2 separate regions of the Homo sapiens genome follow, and region 1 is linked to region 2. Evidence: fine-mapped expression QTL. Tissue or cell type: sun-exposed skin. Region 2 holds a variant in brackets; the other region holds the start of a gene. All regions are shown on one strand. Distances are from middle to middle. Region 1 holds the start of SH3KBP1 (SH3 domain containing kinase binding protein 1). Region 2 overlaps SH3KBP1 (SH3 domain containing kinase binding protein 1).

Region 1 (14,160 bases), 55 kb before region 2:
GACCCGGAAGGCCTGGGGCGGGGTCCCCAGCGTGCATCTCTAACAGGTTCCCACATGCTGCTGCTGCTGGGCTGGGGACCACACTTTGAGAGCTTCTGTGGTCCAGAAAAGAAAACTTCAGCTGGGGAATAGAATCCTTAACCCAGGGCTGGCAAGCAAAACAAAGAAGATGAACTTGACTTACTTCCCACTTTTGCCTCTGGCTGGTCTGTAATTATTTTTGAGAAGAGGAACTTGATTTGACTGACTCTATTTAATAAGAAGTCGTGCTAGAAAAGGGTTGTGCCATCTCTTATTAAGTGACCGCCTGGTTCAGAGACTTTTCAATTAAGTCCCATAGCCTCGGGCTTGAGGATGCATCTGAGGTTGGCTGTCTGCTTTGGGGCCTTCACAATCTAGGGGATGGCTGTGGCGTTTCACCGTCAGCTCAGGCCACTGGTCTTGGTTTCTCTGAACCCCGAGGTGATGGGGTGGTGGTTATTGTAATTCTGATTTCCTGTTTGGGAAGCAGTGTGGGGGTATTATTGGAGGAGTTAAAACACAGGGAATATCGTCCCCACCCAGCCCCATATAACCCACCAATCACATATGTATTCATTCTCTTTTGGTACTAAAATATACATAACAAAATTTGCCATTTTAACCATTTATTAATGTACAGTTCAGTGGCATTAAATACATTCACATTGTTGTGCGACCATCACAACCATCCATCTCCAGAACATTTGCATCTTCCCATACTGAAATGCTGTAACCATGATCACTCTTTTAAAATCTTTAACAGCTTTTATTGAGATATAATTTGCATATCACATAATTAACTTTTTTTTTTTTTTTTTTTGAGACGGAGTCTCGCTCTTTTGCCTGGCTGGAGTGCAGTGGTGCAATCTCGGCTTGCTGCAACCTCTGCCTCCTGGGTTCAAGTGATTCTTCTGCCTCAGCCTCCCGAGTAGCTGGGACTACAGGCGCACACCACCATGCCCAGCTAATTTTTGTATTTTTGGTAGAGACAGGGTTTCACCATGTTGGCCAGACTGGTCTCAAACTCCTGACCTCAGGCAATCCACCCGTCTCGGCCTCCCAAAGTGCTAGGATTATAGGTGTGAGCCACTGTGCCTGGCAATTCACCCATTTTAAAATGTATAATTCAACAGTTTTTAGTATATTCACAGAGTTGTGGAACCATCAACACAATCAATTTTAGAACGTTTTGTCACCGCAAAATGAAACCCTGTACCCATTAGCTGTCACTCCTCAATTCCCCCAGCCCCTGACAACCACTAGCCTACTTTCTGTCTCTATGGATTTGCCTGTTCCAGAAATCTCATATACATGGAACCATATAATAGGTGGCTTTCGACAACTGGCTTCTGTCACTTAGCATCATATTTTCAAGGGTCAACCATGTTGTGGCATAAATCAGTACTTCATTCCCTTTTGTATTCATTTTTTTTTTTTTTTTTGAGACAAAGTCTTGCTCGGTCACCCAGGCTGGAGTGCAGTGGTGCAATCTTGGCTCACTGCAGCCTCAAACTCCCAGGCTCAAGTGATCCTCCCACCTCAGCCTCCCATGTAGCTGGGACTACAGGCACACGCCAGCATGCCTGGCTAATTTTTGCATTTTTTTGTTTTTGTTTTTGTAGAGACAGGGTTTCGCTGTGTTGCCCAGGCTGGTCTTGAATTCCTGGACTCAAGCGATCCACCCACCTTGCCCTCCCAAAGTGTTGAGATTACAGGCATGAGCTACCGAGCCTGGCTGTATTCGCTCTTAATAACATTCAAATTTGAATTCATTATCTCCTCCACATCCCTACCCCAACAAAAACTTCCTTCTCCACTTAGTGGATTTCTCCACTTAGTTGAAACTCCATTATCTATCCAACTTCCAAGCCAACTAACAAAATATCTCTATTGAATCCTCCATCTTTGCTCCCTATCCTCTCGTCAAATCCACTGCCTCATCAGAGCCTGTCAAATGTATTTCAAAAATGGCTCTAGAATGTAACCTCTCCTCTTTGTTAGTATCATTGCCATCATATTTCTTGCCTTTACCACCTCTGGCCTGTTGCTGGCCTCCCACCTGCAAGCTCTTCCTCCAGTCCTTTCTCCACAGAGCTCACCAGTTACCTCCCTAAAAACAGCCTGCTTAGAAATCTGTGCTCCAGGCCAGGCACGGCGGCTCATACTGGTAATCCCAGCATTTGTGAGGCCGAGGTGTGTGGATCACTTGAGGCCAGGAGTTTGAGACCAACTTGGCCAACATGGTGAAACCCCATCTCTACTAAAAATACGAAAATTAGCCAGGTGTGGTGGTGCACACCTGTAATCCCAGCTACTCGGGAGGTTGAGGCAGGAGAATTGCTTCAACCCAGGAGGCAGAGGTTGCAGTGAACCGAGATTGTGCCACTTCACTCCAGCCTGGACAACAGAGTGAGACTCTGTCTCAAAAAAAAAAAAAAAAAGAAAAGAAAAGAAAAGAAAAAAGAAACCTGTGCTCCTACCCATTGCCTGCAGGGTCTTGTTTGATCTGGCCCTGACATAGAAACCATTTAGAATCAGACATTTCACTACACTCCTGCCCCTTCCACAGGAGACCCCTTGAAAATGCCATCTGTTCTGCAGACTCTGCACATCCTCACTTGTTCTTCCCTCTGTCAGGAACACGGGCCAATGTCTGTGCAGCCTGGAGGCTGAGCTCCAAAGGAACCCAGCCTGTGAAGGAGCCCCTGAGCTTAGCTTCTCCCGAAGGTTCTGGGACAAAAAGAGAAACTATGTTTGCAAGTCAATTCCTACTTTTAAATTTTCATTACCGATGAGATCAAAAGCCTCCCATAGTAATTTATCAGTTTCCATTTTTAAAAATTGGCCTGTTGATACAGTTTATTCCTATGTTAAATGCCATTGTTCTATTTAATGTTAACATTTATTTATTTAGACGGAGTCTTGCTCTGTTGCCCAGGTTGGAGTGCAGTGGCACAATCTCGGCTCACTGCAACCTGTACCTCCCGGGTTCAAACGAGTCTTCTGCCTCAGCCTCCCCAGCAGCTGGAATTAACGTGCGTGCACCACCACATCCGGCTAATTTTCATATTTTTAGTAAAGACGGGGTTTCACCATGTTGGCCAGGCTGGTCTTGAACTCCTGGCCTCAAGTGATCTGCCTGGGTAGGCCTCCCAAAGTGCTGAGATTCCAGGCGTGAGCCACCATGCCTGGCTTAATGTTAACATTTATTACAATATATATATCACACATATGATCTTAATGTCTGGTGCTTTGGGAACTTTTTTGATTATCATTTGATTTGCCTTTTAATTGTGAAAATGTAGTTCCTTACACATGACCCCTTGTGATTTTGGTGGGGGAGGAAACCAGCAGGATGGGTAGAAAACAGTAGAAACCATGTTTTTTGTTAATCTCCTGGGACCATTCTCCCAATTTACTATTTTCTTAGACAAAGCAGTGCTGTGGAAAAGGATGGAAAAATGTTCTTGGCAAGTTCATCTGTGCACCAGGGCTCTTTTTGCGCACTTTGGATACAAGCTTGTGTGACCAGTCAGCTTGGGAGTTGATTACTCAGGCATTCTTTGGATTTTTAAACGAGGACATCCTATTTTTGTAGCATTGTGGACATGCACGTCTCACCTTCTAGTTGCTTCCTTTGTGTTTTCCTTTGTTTACAAAGCGAGGCGTTCCCACAAACCTTGTAAAGAAGGTCATGGTTTAGCTGTTTCATAAGTGATCTACTTCTCTGATTTGATTCGTTTGTTCATCTTTATAGAGCAGGTGAACCCAGTCCTGTTAGATTTGCTGAAAAAGATTTACTGAAAAGGAAAAAGAGGGAAGGGAGTGGGTCATTCTAAGAGAGGCTATCAAGCCAGGTAAACATAATAGAGCAAGACATTTGTCATTAATATTTCTGTGGCTTTTGATCTAGACATCAGTTACCTTTAACCTGGTGTGCATGAAGCAAAGGAGGAATGGAAAAGCCTGCCTCAAAACCATCAGGCTCACACCTGTAATCCCAGCACTTTGGGAGGCTGAGGCAAGTGGATCACTTCAGCTAGGGGTTCGAGACCAGCCTGGTCAACATGGCAAAACCCCATCTCTATTAAAAATACAAAAATCAGCTGGGTGTGGTGGTGCACACCTGAGGTACATGAATCTCTTGAGCTTGAGCTCAGGAGGCAGAGGTTACAGTGAGCGGAGATCACATCATTTCACTCCAGCTTGGGCGACAGAGTCAGACCCTGTCTAAAAAAAGAAAAAAAAAAAGCCATCAGCACAGAGCCATGACTGCTTGCTTAAAGTGAACAGACACTCCTCAAAAGAAGCACTATTCACAATAGCAGAGACTTGGAACCAACCCAAATGCCCATCAATGATAGAATAAAGAAAATGTGGCACATATACACCATGGAATACTATGCAGCCATAAAAAGGATGAGTTCATGTCTTTGCAGGGACATGGATGAAGCTGGAAACCATCATTCTCAGCAAACTAACATAGGAACAGAAAACCAAACATTGCATGTTCTCACTCACAAGTGGGAGCTGAACAATGAGAACACATGGACACAGGGAGGGGAACATCACACACCAGGGCCTCTTGGGTAGTGGGGCGCTAGGGGAGGGATAGCCTTAGGAGAAATACCTAATATAGATGACGGGTTGATGGGTGCAGCAAACCACCATGGCACGTGTATACCTATGTAACAAACCTGCACATTTTGCACATGTATCCCACAACTTAAAGTATAATAAAAGAGAAAGAAAGAAAAAAAAAAGTGCTGTTTGCCAGAGTTCTCCAAGTAAAGTTACTATTTCCCCCATTTTAAATATGAAGACATATTTATTTCAGGGAAAATACTTTGAGGCTATGCAAATATTCTGTTTCTCCTTAAAGTTTCACCCACTCATTTGTGAACGGTAGTTGGATCATGCCTATATTAGCAGTTACTGTGATGTTCTAATGATGCTTTTCCCTTTCTCTCATTTCTCCTACACTTTAATTGGAATTCCTCTGTAAGGAAGACTTGTCCCTTCTCCTTGATATTTTCCCCTAGTCAGTTATTTAGTTGTATTTCTATAGACTCAAAGATATTAATTTTCTTCCAATACAATCATTAATTATTTTGTTGCTTGAATTGCTCCAGCTTTGGCCTTTGGGAGCCCTTTGGGGTTGGCTCCTGTGCCCTTCTGCTGTGCCCTGTCACCTTTGTTGAGTACATCTTTACTTTCTGGCACTGTGAGATTTTTACATTTCTCCATAAAGTTCATCAGAAGCACTATACAATGAGTGTCTTTTGTACAGCACTCAGCACGTAATTTATATTAATGTAAAGACAATATTAAAGGTTATCAAAGTATTGTTCATTAAAGGCAAATTACAGATGTTAAGTCCGAGTACTCAGAGATAGCAAGTATGAAAGACAGAAGCTCACCCACCTTCAATTTTTTCTTTTTTTTTGAGACAGGGTCTTGCTCTGTCACCCAGGCTGGAATGCAGTGGTGCAGTCACGGCTCACTGCAGCCTCAACCTCCCAGGCTCAAGTGATCCTCCCATTTCAACCTTCTGAGTAGCTGGGACTACAGGTGTGCGCCACCTCATCCGACTAATTTTTGTATTTTTTGTAGAGACAGGATCTCACTATGTTGTCCAGGCTGGTCTGAAACTCCTGGGTTCAAGTGATCTACCCACGTCGGCCTCCCAAAGTGCTGAGATTACAGGCATGAGCCACCATGGCCGGCCACACCTTCAGTTTCTATCCAAAAATATGTTACTACTACTGAGCAACATAGCGGTGCCTTTTAAGTCATACGATATCATTTTAAGTGTAACAGCTCCGATACTTTCTATTTCCAAACTGCATAATCTCCTCTGGTGGAAATGGGAGTTCAGTGGGACAAAGATGTATTAAATAAAATCCTATTTCTCTAGAAATATTCATGAGATGAATTTACATCATTTGAAATATTGCAATAACCATTTTGTTAAAAGATACTCTTGTAAGAGGGAGGCAGGATGAGAAATTATGCATCTATTCATGTCAGCAGCTGGATCTGAATCTTGATATTAACTTCCCTTGTGCTGGTCAGCAAAAGTTTCTCCAAGGAAAAATGAAAGGACAATAGGAACAATTCAGAAGAACTAAACAATAAGTGAAAAAATGGAAGGTTCATTTTCATAAGTCAGAGAAACTTAAAATGAAAAATAAACTATAGTGTTTTGGATAGAATCACCACAACTTTGTTTAGTTAAGGCATTAAAATTAGGGCACATGTCCCGGTGCGATGGCTCACGTCTGTAATCCCAGCACTTTGGGAGGCCAAGGCGGGTGGATCACCTGAGGTCAGGAGTTCAAGACCAGCCTGGCCAACAAGGTGAAACCCCATCTCTACTAAAAATACAAAATTAGCTGGGCGTGGTAGCGCATGCCTGTAATCCCAGATACGCGGGAGTCTGAGGCAGGAGAATCGCTTAAACCCGGGAGGTGGAGGTTGCAGTGAGCCAAGATCCCACCATTGCACTCCAGCCTGGGCAACAAGAGTGAAAGTCCATCTCAAAAACAAAAAAATAAAAAATAAAATTAGGACATAGCTCAGGGATTTTCAAAAATATTGTCTTGCCATCAGTCTTTCTTTTGTGGTAACGCAAATTTGACCACGCAGGAAGCAGATCAAGGAGGAGCGACACCGCATTCCTGTCCAAGAAGGAAAAGATATGCCTTGAAATAGACCAGAGAATAAACAAGACTCAAAACTTCAAGCAAGTCGGGCGCAGTGGCTCAGCCTGTAATCCCAACACTTTGGGACACCGAGGCGGGGGAGGATCATTTGAGCCCAGGAGTTTAAGACCAGCGTGGGCAACATAGTGAGACCTCATCTCTACAAAAACTACAAAAATTAGCCGGGTGAGATGGCACGTGCCTGTAGTCCCAGCTATTTGGGAGGCTGAGGTGGGAGGATCACTTGAGCCCAGGAGGTTGAGGCTGCAGTGAGCCATGATCACGCCACTACCCTCCAGCCTGAGTGACCGTGAGACCCTGTCTCAGAAAAAAAAAAAAAAAAGACAACAAAACGAAACAAACCCCCCAAATTTCAAGTGATCTGTGTTCACCTGTGTGAAGTTGGAAATAAAATTCCATGAGAAGACTGTCTTCTCCACATAGGACAGAGAGACCAAGCAGGACATAAGACAAACTGCTGATTTTTTCTTTTTCTTTGAGCCGACAGGGTTCCCGCACCCCATCTGCTGGTTTAGGTGTAGTGGCCTCTGTGATGCCTGGGTAAGTTTAGCTATGGGAAGGTATCATCAACAATGTTCAAAGACTTTTGACTCATCATTGTGAGAATGCACTGGGCAACCAGCCAAGAATCTTCAGCACTCCAGATAACAGTCCACTGCAAGGCCAGCACAACTGTTGCCATGTTGAAATGTACCCCATCACTTTCAGGGGTCTGAGGCTCTTTGAGAGAGGGTTAGGATGACCCACTGATACGGCCTTACCAAAGAGAACCACCTCTGGAATTGAGCAGACCCCCATACCAGTTCTTCTGGGGTTGGGGGAAAAAAAATGTCCCAGTAGCAGAGGGTTTATCCAGGCTCTGTGAGTTTCAGTGTTTGTCAACTCTAAGATGGTATCAGAAGGCTTGATTGCCCTGATTAGAACATGATATAACAAGACATGTAATGAGTGAGGCACCAGGGTGCCTGGAGGAGGAATATTTGAGTATTCATCATCCCTGCCTTCAACATTTCACATTCTTTTTTTTTTTTTTTTTTTTTGAGACGGAGTTTTTCGCTCTGTCGTCCAGGCTGGAGTATAGTGGCGCCATCTAGGCTCACTGCAACCTCCACCTCCCAGGTTCAAACAATTCTTGTGCCTCAGCCTCCCACGGAGTTAGGACTAAGGCATGCACCACCACGCCTGGCTAATTTTTGTATTTTTAGTAGAGAGAGGGGCTCGCCATGTTGGTCAGCCTGGTCTTGAACTCCTGACCTCAGGTGATCCGCCCACCTCGGCCTCTCAAGGTGCTGGGTTTACAGGCGTGAGCCACCGTGCCTGGCCCACTTCACATTCTTTTCTTTTCTTTTTTTCTGAGACGGAGTCTCGCTCTGTCGCCCAGTCTGGAGTGCAGTGGCACGATCTTGGCTCACTGCAAGCTCCACCTCCCGGGTTCACACCATTCTCTTGCCTCAGCCTCCGGAGTAGCTGGGACTACAGGCGCCCGTCACAACACCCAGCTAATTTTTTGTATTTTTTAGTAGAGACCGGGTTTCACCATGTTAGCCAGGATGGTCTCGATCTCCTGACCTCGTGATCCGCCCGCCTCGGCCTCCCAAAGTGCTGGGATTACAGGCGTGAGCCACCGCGCCCGGCCTTCACATTCTTAATCTCCGTGTTCTCTGATCCCTTTTTTAGGAGTCTGATATTGATGACACTAGGACTTCAATTGCAGCCTCTGTGTGGATGGGCCTCTTGTCCCTTGATTAGTCTCCTATTTCGATCGGTTTGACACACATGAACGGTATTTAGAAAGATGATGCTACTGATCTCTTGTTTGTAAGACCCTGACTTTGAGGTTTTTTGAAAAACTCATGAAACAGTTATAAGAACAATTTTCTACAGAAATCCCAGGACGGTAACCAATTTACAAGAGTTGCCCCGCCAACACAGGTGAGGTATGGAGACAGCCCCTCTCTTGGGTAGGGGGTCGGCTTTCATTTGTCCCTTTTGAGTCCACTAGCCCTCAGCCTCCTCCATTTCCAGGGGCCACTGATGTAATTTCTCTATTGTCTTACGTGCTCTTTGCCTAAATGTCTCCCATGTAGTTCACTATCGCTTCCTACCACCAGATGGTGGAAAGGGAAAAGGAAATAACGGGCCGGTAGAGGAATGTGGTGGCAGGCAGAGTATCTATGGCGAAAGGTGTGGTGGTGAATGGACCCAAAACGGAGCTTCTGAATTGCCCACGAATGCCCACGGATTCCCTGTTAACATTTTAGCGCCCACTCAAGGGTCGGCCGTCCAGGTCTGGGAGTCAGTAAGGCACAATAATGCCTGCTAGGGAGGGAGCCAGCCCTCATCTCAGCGGATTCCTGGGAACGTCAGAGCTCGGGAACATTCCTGAACACCCGAACCGCACCTGGCCCAGGCACTGGGGCGGGGCTTAGGCGGGTCCCAGCGAGGCGATGCGTCCCCTCGGCCCCGCTGCGTCCTTCGCCCGTTTTTCCCCACGTCAGTGCCACCGCCTCCTCTGTGCGGAACTCGCACCTGGCCTGCCTGCGTTCCCACGCCCCACCGAAGGGACGCCGCGTTTCTCTCCCTTCCAAGGGACCCTTTTCCTTCCCCTCCAACAGCCCCCCGGGAAAACTCATTCCAGATTGCCTCGATGCCCCAGGGCCACCTGCCATCACCCTGGTCAGGCGTTTGGCCCCGGGCCTGCCCTGGTCTCCATCCCCAGCCCGTCCTCCACCTCTTGTCGCCCCCTCCCGCTCAGCCCCCTTCTCCTCCTTCTCCACGTGCCCCTGCACTCCCACGCCCCTCCCCCAAGAAGCCCCTCTCCTCCGGTCTCGAGGAGTCTCGCGGCACTTCCCGGGGCGTCAGCCCAGCCGCTGCGGGTGGGTGGCAGCCGCGCGGAGAGGGGTGCCTCTGGCGCGGGCGGTGAGGAGGGCGCCCAAGCCCCTCAGCCGCAGGGACGCCCCCGGCGCCTGCCCCGACGCGGCCCCGGCCCCGGCCCCGCCCCTCTCCGGCCCCGCCCCCGCCCGGCGGCCGCGCGTCCCCGGCAGGCGGAGCTGCAGGAGCCTCGCGGCAGCGCTGAGGAGGAGGGGAGAGCGGGCGGCGCGGCCGCGGCTGCCGGGCGCTGGGCTGGGCGGCGCTGTTTTTTTTTTTTTTTTTTTTTTTTTTTTTTTTTTTTTTTTTTTTTTTTTCGCAATTTCCACTCGCGGGGAGCAGGAAACCCGGCGCAGCCGGGCGCATTGGGCCGCGATGCAACAGCAGCAGCAGGAGTCGCCCCGGGGCAGCAGCGGCAGCAGCAGCAGAGGCAGCAGCGGGCGGCGCTGAGCCGCCGCCGCCGCCACTGAGGAAGAAGCCGGCCCAGCCGCCGCCGCGTCCGGACCCTCGCGCCTGGATCCCAGCGCCCCGATCCCGGCGCCCCAACCCCCACGCCCGCCTCCGCCAACTTTCACGCTGCCTCGGCGGCCCGGCCCGGCTCGACGCCAATGGGTGAGTGGGGGCCGCCCGCGTCCGGGCGTCCACTTCAGCCTTGAGGGCGGCGCGCCAGTCCCAGAACCGCGGAGCCCGGGAGGGCGCCCCGGGGGCAGGGTCCGGACGGGGGACACCGCGGTGGGCGCCCTCGCCTGCCTCGCGCACCCCCATTCACTCCCACTTGCGCCCGTGTGCCCGCCGAGCCCGCGCGCGGCGCCGACGGGAACCCGCGGGGGCCTGAGCAGACGATCACGGGGGCTGGCCCCGGGCGGCTCGGGCTGAGGGATGCAGGGGGTGTGGTTGGTTTTTCGGGTGGGCGGGGAGAGTTTTGTCTTGGCCATTTTTGCACCCGAGCGCGCCCTCCTCTGCGCTGCGGACACGGGCACCCGGACCTGGTGGGCTCCGGCCCTGCGCGGGGCTGCTGGTGTCTTCCTGGTCCTGTCTCGGGGGAAGCTGGAACCTCGGGGTCTTGGAGGGGGCTGGGTTGCCTTTGCTGGGGGTTGACAGGGGTTGGGGGGTGGGGCGGGAAACGCCCCAGTTCCTGGTCTGGCTCGCAGTCCCGGGGTCCAGAGCACCTGACGCTCCTCTCCTTGCGCCCCCCTTCCTCCCGGCCCCGACCCTTTCGCTGCTGCCTTCCTCCAGCCTGGCGAGCTCTCTGCTCCGTGATGCTAAAAGGCCACTTCCCATACTGTCCTTTAAGTCTTCAGGGTCTGGGACCTGGAAATGGTGATCCGGTCTTTGATTTACTGAGTAAACATCAGTTCGAAGTAGCCAACTAACCTTTGAACCCCCTGGGTCCCATTTGATTTAGACCCCGGAGCATTGGAACCACCTTGCTGCCCAGAGAAGCTGCCACTTTATTGGCAAGGCACTTATGATTACTTGGGCTATTAAATGTTTGGTCTACCCAGGTAATGTTCTTGCTGACAGCCAGCTTCTGTTTTTCAGCCTCTGGCAGATTATTTTTGGATGTTCCTAGGCCAGGCATAGGAAGGCTGCAGATAATAATAAATCATAATAAAGTGAGACCTTTCTGTGTTCAGGTAATAGGATTCCAGTACACTAGTCAGGATGTTCAGAAAGCCTGAAGGATTGGAAAAGAGGAGGTTTAACCCAGTCCGTTGTTGACAGGCAAAGTTAAAATCCCATTTGTGGTCATTTGCCAAAAAAGGTTTTCCTTTTCTAAGTAGTGGTGATCTGTTGTCCCCTTGGCTTAAATGTCACTTTTTTCACAGTGCCCTTCTCTCCCACCTGTAGTCTAAATTGGTTCCTGTTCCATTTTCTCATACAACACCTTTTTTTTTCGTAGCAGTATTACATATTTGTGCGTAACAGTTATCTCCTCTACTGTAAGCTCTGTGACCATAGGGACAGCACAGTGTTGCATAGTTTGCTCAGCACTTTTGGTGTGTGGCACAGAGCAGGACCTAAATATTTGTTGAATGAATGAATGAGGGGCATGAAATCCTCCTCCTCTGCTGGGGACAGAACACTTAGCTCACTCTTGTTTTGCTTTGGCCCATAAGATGATTTAGTTCATTGGCAGAAGTATATACTTTAAACCTTACAGGCCACTTTAGTAATGGGTTAATTTCTCCCGAGGTAACCAAAAATTCTGTTTTGATCACCTTTCATTTTGGGTGGGTCACCGAGAGGGTTATGCACAAAAAGAAGTTAATCCAAATGTCTTCTCCCATGGCCAGACTGTGCTTTCTGTATCTCAATGAGAAGGGGACTGAGTCTCATTTAAGAAGAATCAGACCTATTTTTCAGATTTGAACTGTTTTCATTCTTCAGAACTTCCTACGAAAAATAGAGTGCTCCTGTAGTTTTTAGTCCTTTTGTACTTAATCTTTACTGCAACCATTATTGCAGGGGGAGGGGGCATCGATTTTCATTTATTTCAGGAGTTAATACTTAGAGGTGATAATGTCAAAACGAATGTAATTTAATTCATGTTTATAGTGGGATTTAAGGTGCTTATAGTAGTTTGTGGCTAAAAATCACCTGCTCTTTTGAAAGCATCTCCAGCAGTATATTTGTAATGAAGTGCAGTTATTTAACGGTTCATTCTGTATGTCTTCCAATGGAGTGATCTAATGGGCTGAGGTTGTGTGTATGCAGACAGAGGCCCACCCTTTCCCCCAAGTCTCTGGTTTTCAGATTTATCCAGTTTATCAATTTGATGCAATTTTATTCTTTTTTAAGAGGGAGGGTCTCGCTGTGTTGCCCAGGATGGATTTGAACTCCTGGACTCCAGATCTTCCCAAGTAGCTGGGACTGCACGCTCACACCACTGTGCCTGATTCTGATACACTTATATTCTTACCTGGCCTGATAATGAGTTTTCTCTTGATGGATAACATAGTAAAACTGTATCTTATATTTCGTTTTCTGAAAAATAACAGAAAAGAACCAAATCCCTAACCCTGAAGTGAAGCTGGTTAGTTGCAACATGGCCTCTTATAAAAGCCCATCAGAATGTGCCCTCTGAACTTGCTAGGAGATGCATGCCTACAGTGCCAGACACAGAGAAAGCCTCTTATAATTACAATTAAACAGATATTATGGTGACCCAAATCTGTGAGTAGTGAAGGGTTTGCAAGCCCACAAATGATTTCTGTTTAATTCCAGAGTAACAACAAAGTTTGGATAGCCTTTGGCAATGTATTTATTGTATTGGCGGTAGACTGCTGTATGCTAAACTAAAGCTAAAATGAACATAATGTGTTGGTCTGTACAAATGTCTTGAGTTAGAAATGGAAGAAAAGGCTCCCACCTTAATTGTACATAAGCTTTACCCACTTCTATCCATCTTGGCACGAGCAAAAGCTTGCTGTGGCTCTGGTTACACAAACCTTGGTGGTTTCTTCTCTTACTACTTCAGTTCTTTTGGCGTTACTGACATTCTCTCATCAACTCTTGAGTTTGTAGTTGTTTTTAATGTATTTTGCATACAGCAGTATTTGTTCATCTATCCATCCATCCATCCATCCAATGTTTGTTGATCTTCTTTGCATAGGCACTGTGCTAAGAACAGGTGCAGAACAGAGACATGACACTTTGGGCTTCTCAGTCTAATGAAGGCTGACTTGAATGCAATTCTCATGGCAGTATGTAGCTGAAAGCCATAGTAGAGCGCATGAAAGATGAGTGGAGAAGGCCAATCTGACTTAGCCTGGAGAGTGCCCAGGACAGTGTCTTAGAGGAGATTGTGTTTGAGCAGAAATCTGGTTGAGTATGAGTCATCACTGCCCTCCAGCCACACCTGGTTCTTGTGGCAGAGACTGAAAACGAGCACCGTGGGAACCGCGGGGCATCTCAGTAAGATGGTACAAGGAAGGATGACTTAGAGGGCTTGCACCTGTGTCAGGTGGCTTGAGGGCGTGTTTAAGGAAGCTGGGCATTACTTTGGATTGGATGCTACCAGGGGGAATTTGTGATTGGGTATTTTAACAAATGTTCTCTAGGAGCAGGGAACATTGGAGGCAGGCCACAGCTATGGTTGGTAAAGCAGCAGCAGTCATTTGCATTATCCAGGATTGGGGGATATTTGGTCATGTGTGTGGTTTGGACAAGGTGCATGTTTTGTCCGTGTTCAGACATGATTAATGTGTGGTCTTGTTTTCATCTTATTCCATCCTGGTCGCAGAGTGGCCTTGTCTGATGTTGGTTTTCTAGGGAATTGTTTCTGTTCAACAGGACACCCTGGCCCAGCTGTGGGTGCCTGGCCAGCTCCCAGCCAGAAGAACTGCTCTTTCTCCGAGTTAACTATGTGACAGGCAGGGGCAGGGAATCGGAGGCAGTGGGGGAGGAAAATGGCTTTCTAGGTATATCTGTGGCTACTTCATATCAACCAGGTATAGCCTGGACTGTTGTTCAATGCTAAGCACGATGGACATCTGAAATGCTATACTAAGGGAAGAGAGAGTGACAGAGAAAGAGCAAGCTG
Region 2 (8,000 bases):
TCCATACCCAGAAGGCATTCAGGGGCTCACAGGGAAGACAAGACACAGCTTGGGATTGCCTCAGTGGCAGGGGCCAGAGAGGCCTTGGGTCTAGAAGAGCTTGGAAGGTGATGTGGAGGCAGTCAGGACCTAGCTGTGGCCAGAAGGCAAGGAGGCTGTGCATGATTACTTAAGTTTAAAGAAAGGGCAATGGCCAGGGTGGTCGCTCACGCCTGTAATCCCAGCACTTTGGGAGGCCAAGGCAGGCAGAACATTTGAAGTCAGCCTGACCAACACGGTGAAATCCTGTCTCTACAAACAATACAAAAATTAGCTGGGCATGGTGGTGTGCACCTGTAGTCCCAGCTACTTGGGAGGCTGAGGTGGGAGGAACACTTGAGCCTGGGAGACAGAGGTTGCAGTGAGCTGAGATGGTGCCACTGCACTCCAGCCTGGGCAACAGAGCCAGACCCTGTCTAAAAAAAAAAAAAAAATTTTGTTTTTTTTTTTTAGTATCTTCTTAATTATGTATAGATTGTGTACATATATTCCTGTACTAATTGAAGATCAAGAAAACCCCAGAGAAGCTCCTACGCTGTTATTATTAGGCTTAACAAACTTTTGAAACACATAAAATTGAGTATTGTATGACTTTAGACATTGGTGGAAAAATGAAGACATTTTCTTCATGGTTCAGGTACATAGTTTTAAAATATCTTGCTAATCCTGATGGTTCCACACTTACACCAATGTCAGGGGTGGAAAGAAACCCATATTATGAATGATCTTGATAACTGAGTGTTTGGGGGCCATCTCCCCGTAAGATCTGATGTGTCTTCCCCATGTGGTGGGCAAAGAGCTCCCAGCAGAAGCTGAAGTGGCAACTCTATCATTTTCTTTCTTTCTTTTTTTCCTTTTCTTTTTTTCTTTTTTTTTTTTTTTTTTTTGAGACAAAGTTTCGCTCTTTTCCCCAGGCTGGAGTACAGCGGCATGATCTTGGCTCACCGCAACCTCCGCCTTCCGGTTTCAAGCGATTCTCCTGCCTCAGCCTCCAGAGTAGCTGGGATTACAAGCACCCACCACCAAGCCCAGCTAATTTTTGTATTTTTAGTAGAGACAGGGCTTCATCATGTTGGCTAGGTAGGTCTCAAACTCCTGACCTTGTGATCCGCCGGCCTTGGCCTCCCAAAGTGCTGGGATTACAGGCATGAGCCACCGTGCCCGGCCAGCTCTCCCATTTTCTTGGCACTTGGCCTCGTGTTGTCTACAGCTCCTACTTTCTTTACACAGATCTTTTCAAGCAGCTGACCCACTTTGTGAGGGTGATTTCAGCAAGAAGGGGTCATAGCCATAAGGAGGCTGTACCAGGAGGCACCAGAGAACTGCAGGGCACCCCATGGTGGGGACACAGTCAAACCATATCAGATGGGAATTATTAGCTTTGACATACAACTGAGACCTAGAGAAGTTAGCATCACATGGAATGCTGGTGCTTGCTCTGGTGGTACTCCTTGATTCCACTGTCCCTCTGGCTGCTTCCTGCCCCTTAAAGGATCCCTGACTGTGTGTCCTGGAGACTGGGTGAAGGAACCTGTGTCATTCTGTCAATGGAACAATAGAGAAGTTGAATTATTACTTTTTTAAAGTTAAAACAAAATGAATAGACATTGTAATTTTTTTCTCCCATCATCTCAATGGATGCTTAAAACCTATCTCAGTGTATTGAAGTTGGTTTGTTGTTGTTGTTGTTGTTGTTGTTGTTGTTGTTGTTGTTTTACTCATTTGTGCTTTTTGTCTCCTATTTAAGAAATCTTTGCCAAACCTAAGGTCATTAAGATTTTCTCCTATCCATTCTTATAAAAAGTTTTACAATTTTAGCTCTTACACTTAGGTCTGTGAACTATTTTGAGTTAATTTTAGCATATGCATGCTTTACAGAGCTCATTTAACTTTTCCTCTTCCATTATTTTATCATAATTTCTGAATTGCTAATTTACCACTGGGGATTTATCTAATTTTTGCTATCCTTGTATTCATTCATTTGCCATTCATTCATTCATTCATACGGATCTGCAAATAAAAAAGGAAAAGGTGGCTGGGCACGGTGGCTCATGCCTGTAATTCCAGCACTTTGGGAAGCCGAGGCGGGCAGATCATCTGAGGTCAGGAGTTCAAGACCAGCCTGGCCAACATGGTGAAACCCCGTCTCTACTAAAAATACAAAAATTAGCTGGGTGGGGTGGCATGCATTCAAGGAGAATCGCTTGAACGTGGGAGGTGGAGGTTGCAGTAAGCTGAGATTGCGCCACTGCAGTCCAGCCTGGGTGACAGAGTGAGACTCCATCTCAAAAAAAAAAAAAAAAAAAAAAAAGTGTTATGAAATTGGTTCATATTGAGGTGGTCATGAGGAGAAGTCCAGTCTAAATGAATTGCATAAGTTAACTAATTTTTGGATTGGTTAATGCTGCTAATTTGCATTGGCACTTTGTCAGTGAGAAGACCCACCTTTCTTACCTGTTGCCTTTGCTCATTACCAAGTATGAGAGATTTTCATAGATCAGGAAAACAATGTAACATGGAATTGATGCGTAAGAGCTCATCTGTTGAGAGGGCAGTTGTGGTTCTGATGTAGGCGGTCTGAGACATTGGCTTGGCCAGCCAGGCCCTCTATGCCACCTGTCTTTACACGTGTTGTTGCTGCAAGATGGGTGTTACCTCTGTCGGATGGTGTATTAGTCTGTTCTTGTGCTGCTAATAAAGACATACCCAAGATTGGGTAATTTATAAAGGAAAGAGGTTTAATTGACTCAGTTCAGTATGGCTGGGGAGGCCTCAGGAAACTTAACAATCATGACAGAAGGGAAAGCAAACACATCCTTCTTCACATGGTGGCAGGAAGGAGAAATGCCAAACAAAAGGGGGAAAAGTCCCTTATAAAACCATCAGATCTCATGAGAACTCACTCACTATCACAAGAAAAGCATGAGAGTAACTGCCCTCATAGTTCAATTACCTCCCACTGGGTCCCTCCTACAACACTTGGGGATTATGGGAACTACAATTCAAGGTGAGATTTGGGTGGGGACACAGCCAAACCATATCAGATGGGGATTATTAGCTTTGACATTTTGTACAACTGAGACCCAGAGAGGTTAGCATCACATAGTATTGGCGGGGGATGGGAGACCCAGAAGTCAAACCGACATCTGTTGTCTGTACTCTGAGCTCGGGGAGACAATGCTGGACACCCTCTGGGTGGGGCAAATGTTGTTATCTGGCTGTCATCATGCAGCTTCCCCTCTGAAGCGCCTGCTGGCCCCAAGACCTGTAGGCCACCCTGCCTGTGCCTGACCACGGACCAGCACTTTGTGGTTTCTGTGCTATAGGCTTCAGGTTAACCAAAATTGGGTTACTGTGTGTGGCCCTGTTATTTTGAATATTTGTAGAGGGGAAGTCCCTTTAATGTTACTTTACTGGCCTTCAAGGGATACTGGACCTCAGCCTTCTCCAACATCTGACCTAAATTACTCTGTTTTCCCTGTTCCTTCCAGTGGAGGCCATAGTGGAGTTTGACTACCAGGCCCAGCACGATGATGAGCTGACGATCAGCGTGGGTGAAATCATCACCAACATCAGGAAGGAGGATGGAGGCTGGTGGGAGGGACAGATCAACGGCAGGAGAGGTTTGTTCCCTGACAACTTTGTAAGAGTGAGTACAAAGCAAAACCCTTTTCCTGTCTCCTGTGTGGGCTCTGCTGACCAAAGTCTATGGGGGCGCTTGAGGATGAATTGCATGAACTCTCTTAGGGAATGGCTTGCCCTCCTCTGTGATATCAAGAGAAGCATGTATAGTTTTGCCCTTGGTATCTGGGATACTTGTTTTGAAATTGCTTTTTTGAGGCTCAGGATGATCTCTTTCCACTGTGTATCACTTCTTAGGATATGCTAAGGCTGGGTGCAGTGGCTCATGCCTGTAAATCCCAGCATTCTGGGAGACTGAGGTGGGCGGATCACTTGAGGTCGGAAGTTTGAGACCAGCCTGGCCAATATGGTGAAACCCCATCTCTACTAAAAAAAAAATACAAAAATTAGCCAGGTGTGGTGGCATGTGCCTGTAGTCCCAGCTACTCGGGAGGCTGAGGCAGGAGAATCGTTTGAACTTGGGAGGCAGAGGTTGCAGTGAGCTGAGATTG[C/T]GCCACTGCACTCCAGCCTGGGCAAGAGAGCGAGACTGTCTCAAAAAAAAAAAAAAAATAGTAAAGGCTGTTAAATTGTTGTATGTACTTGTTTATTTGCTTTGGAAGTTTAAAAGAATTTTATTTTTTTCTATTCCTTGCAAAATGGAGGTAAAACTCAGTTTTGACCACTTAAATAACAATTAAATTAAATGTAGAATTCAGCCAGACATGGTGGCTCATGCCTATAATCCCAGCACTTTGGGAGGTTGAGGCAGGAGAGTCACTTGAGCCCAGGAGTTTGAGACCAGCCTGGGCAATATAGGGAGATCCCTGTCTCTACAAAAATAAAATAAAATAATTAGCCAGGCATGGTGGTGTGCACCTGTATTCTCAGCTACTTGGGAGGCTGTGGTGGGAAGATCACTTGAGCCCAGGAGGTTGAGACTGCAATGAGCCGTGATCATGCCAGAGCACTCCCTGTCTCTAAATAAATAAACAAACAAATAAGTAAAGGTAGAATCCAAATTATGGAATGCTTTGAACGAATGAATGAATATAGAATTCAAATTATGCAATGTTTTCCACCTTTGTATTCATATTGCCTTTTTTTTTTTTTTTTTGAGACAGTCTTGCTCTGTTGCCCAGGTTGGAGTGCAGTGGCATGATCTTGTTCTCAGCTCACTGCAACCTCCACCTCCCAGGTTCAAATGATTCTCATGCCTCAGCCTCCCGAGTAGCTGGGATTACAGGCATGTGCCACCACGCCCGACTAATTTTTGTATTTTTTTTTAAGTAGAGATGGGGTTTCACCATATTGGCCAGGCTGGTCTCAAACTCCTGACCTCAAGTGATCCGCCCACCTCAGCCTCCCAAAGTGCTGGGATTACAGGTGTGAGCCACCATGCCCAGCTCATATTGCCTTTTTGATAGGAGCAATATTATTTTCCTTTACCCCTTTATGTCCATGAAGCATTAAACAAGACTTACTTCTTCAGTAATGTTTTGAAAATTATGCCTTTTGGAGAAGTCATCTACAGGTTAATTATAAAAATGTAACTCATTCATATTAATAAATTACCACACAGTTGTAAGTAGTACTTTGAATTGTTGGGTAGAAAAAGATCACCTGGAGGCTATTCCTCATGGGAAATATTAACTAGGTCTAGAAGTCCCCTTGCCATAAACTTTCTATCTCATACTGGAGAAGAATGGATTGTTCTCAGAAGAATGGGTTGTCCTCAGTGGGAAGACCTGCATGCAGAAGTCCCCAGGTCCCCTGCTGTAGTCTCCGTGTTACCAGATAATACTTAAGAGGACTGTGCCTTGGATACAGGGAGGCAGGTAGTATGGGGAACCTTGGGCCCAGAGAAGCAGGTGACCCCCGCCAAAGGAGCCCTGAGGGCTGGGTGGGAGGGGTTTTTTATGACAAGGAGTTGTTGATGAAAAATGTGTGATGGACACTGGACTTCCAGTCACTACCCTTTCAGAGTCGAAAATGAATAGGAACCTATTTAAATCTTTCTTTAGGATCTTGTCTCAGGGTGATCCTGCTAGCATTTCTGTTTTCTTTTCTCTTTGGTGTGAGAAGGCTGGGGAGAGTTTTGTAGGGAACATGCTGCTAAACATTGCTTTCTGGAGTTGTAGGAATATAGGCTTTCCCCCCACTGTACTACACTTGAATCCAGCCGCTCGCTCCCATTTTAAGAGTGGGAAAGTGCTGCATCTGGGCCACCACAGACTCTGTTGAGGTGTGAATGGGAGTTCTTTTGCATATCCCAACAAAGACCCCAGTTTTAGGAAAGGAGCATCCCTGAAGTTGAGCTGCATTCTAGTGTGGAAAGAGGGTTTTTCCAGATAAAAGGGGCAGTGGTTAGAGTGAAGATGAAGGAAGAAGGAATGACAGAAGGGGACTGTGGGAAAGAGAGAAGACCCTGGGAAGGAGGGAAGACTGTGGGGAAGGATAGCAAGATTGTGGGAAAGTGAGCAGGACTGTGGGGAAGAGAGAGGAGGGCCCTGGGAAGGAAGGAGGACTGTGGAAAGGCGAGGTGGATGGTGGGAAAGAGGGAGGAGGACCCTAGGAAGGAGGACTGTGGGAAGGGGAGAAGGATCATGGGAAAGAGAGAGGAGGACCCTGGGAAGGAAGGAGTACTTTGGGAAGGTGAGGAGGACTGTGGGAAAGAGGGAGGAGGACCCTGGGAAGGAAGGAGGACTGTGGGAAGGGGCGGAAGACTGTGGGAAAGACAGAGGAGGACCCTGGGAAGGAAGGAGGACTGTGGGAAGGGGAGAAAGACCATGGGAAAGAGGTAGGGGGACCCTGGGAAGGAAGGAAGAATGTGGGAAGGCAAGGAGGACTGTGGGAAGGGGAGAAAGACCATGGGAAAGAGGTAGGGGGACCCTGGGAAGGAAGGAAGAATGTGGGAAGGCAAGAAGGACTGTGGGAAAGAGGGAGGAGGGCCCTGGGAAGGAGGGAGGACTGTGGGAAGGAGAGGAGGACCGTGGGAAGGAGAGGAGGACCATGGGAAAGAGAGAGGAGGAGCCTGGGAAGGAGAAGGGACTGCAGCATCAGCTCCAGTTTTGAGGGTAGGTCGTATTTTGAACACCTTTAATGTGTCTTGTTGGCCTAGTGTCACCTGATTTTAAACCACAAATCTACAGATTCAGAGAACTGAGTTGGAAGGCACTGAGAAAGCCTATGGAATTTGCTCATAGCATAGGGCTGGCGCGCTGTCAGTGACTGTGGAGGGAACCAGGGCAGGGAAATGCAGTGTAGGAACTGCCCACGCGAGAGCTGGAACCTGACCCTCCCCCTGCTCGGAGAGGACTCCTTGCTGTGAAATGGAGGTGATGTCTTGACCAGAAGGTCTCCGCATTGCCCCACCTGCTCTGCTTTGGGCTAGGCCAGTGTGGGCATGGCAGCAGGCTCCTGTCCTGTGGCTTCCCATGGGCTTTGGCTCAAGGGAAGCCCTGGTGGGAGATGGCAGGGAGGGATGCGAGTGAGATTGGGGGGCGGGGGGAGGCGGTTATCCCACCAACTCCCTGCTCATGTGGATTTTGGGCTGGCCGTGTCTCTCATGGGATGGGTGGCTGCTCCAGTCAGGCTCACCTTCCTCCTTACCCCTCTCTCCTCATTCCTTCAGGTCTGGGGGCTTCCTTGTTTCGAGTCCCTGGCTACCACCTTGGGCTTTCTTTATACCTCACCCACCCTGTGAAAGAGTATTAATCCCACTTGAGATTACCCTAATTCGAGTGGGCCATCTGTTTCCTTTTGAGAACCCGACTACCTCATCGGCCTGTTCAGAGGATTAAACCAGAGAATGCTGGAAATTGTTTAGCACAGTGGCCAGCCCCTCAGTGAGTGTGCCACAGTGCTGGTCACTGGGTGAGGGAATGGGTCCTCTCCTCTGGGCCTGAATTGCCCTGCGCTCACCTGCTCAGGTGTCCTCTAGTTTCAGCCGGAGCACTTCCAGGGAGGGGAAGACATGCTCTTGAGAGATGCTTGCTCTACCTAGGGCAGAAAGGATGTAGCAGGAGTGGCTGGGGCTGCGCTACTTGTAGCTGTCACATTTGGCAGAAAAAGAAACTTCTATTCTTTCAGATGGCTGAGTCTATTTTCAAGTCTTCACCCACTGGAAATGTTTTAGGCCTATTATTGAAAATTCAGTAGGTGGTTGCAGTGGAGTTAAACAATAACCAGGACTCTGTAGAGAATTCTAAAAGCTGAAAATGCATCTTTAAGTAATAGTAATCATATTGGCATAGGTGTGCACTTTTGAAAGTGGCTTTATGCATGTCCTATGTAGTGTAAGAATAATGTGTCCCCAGATGGAATTGGGTAGTTTTGTGGAA

Evidence for each region.
Region 1: SH3KBP1 starts here. The variant in region 2 is fine-mapped to the expression of SH3KBP1 in sun-exposed skin (GTEx, PIP above 0.99).

Annotation. Positions count from the first base shown.
Region 1 is chrX:19,883,373-19,897,532 of GRCh38, reverse strand. SH3KBP1 (SH3 domain containing kinase binding protein 1) reads left to right here and starts at 9,933. Exons shown (of 18, transcript NM_031892.3): 1 at 9,933-10,226. The coding sequence starts at 10,223. RefSeq lists an enhancer at 7,267-7,316 and silencers at 9,482-9,781, 9,842-9,911, 10,392-10,531.
Region 2 is chrX:19,831,813-19,839,812 of GRCh38, reverse strand. SH3KBP1 (SH3 domain containing kinase binding protein 1) reads left to right here. Exons shown (of 18, transcript NM_031892.3): 2 at 3,531-3,688. Among named protein-coding and RNA genes, the nearest start is that of SH3KBP1, 52 kb to the left of the region's middle. RefSeq lists a silencer at 3,234-3,293. The variant C/T (reference allele first, on the strand shown) is at 4,173.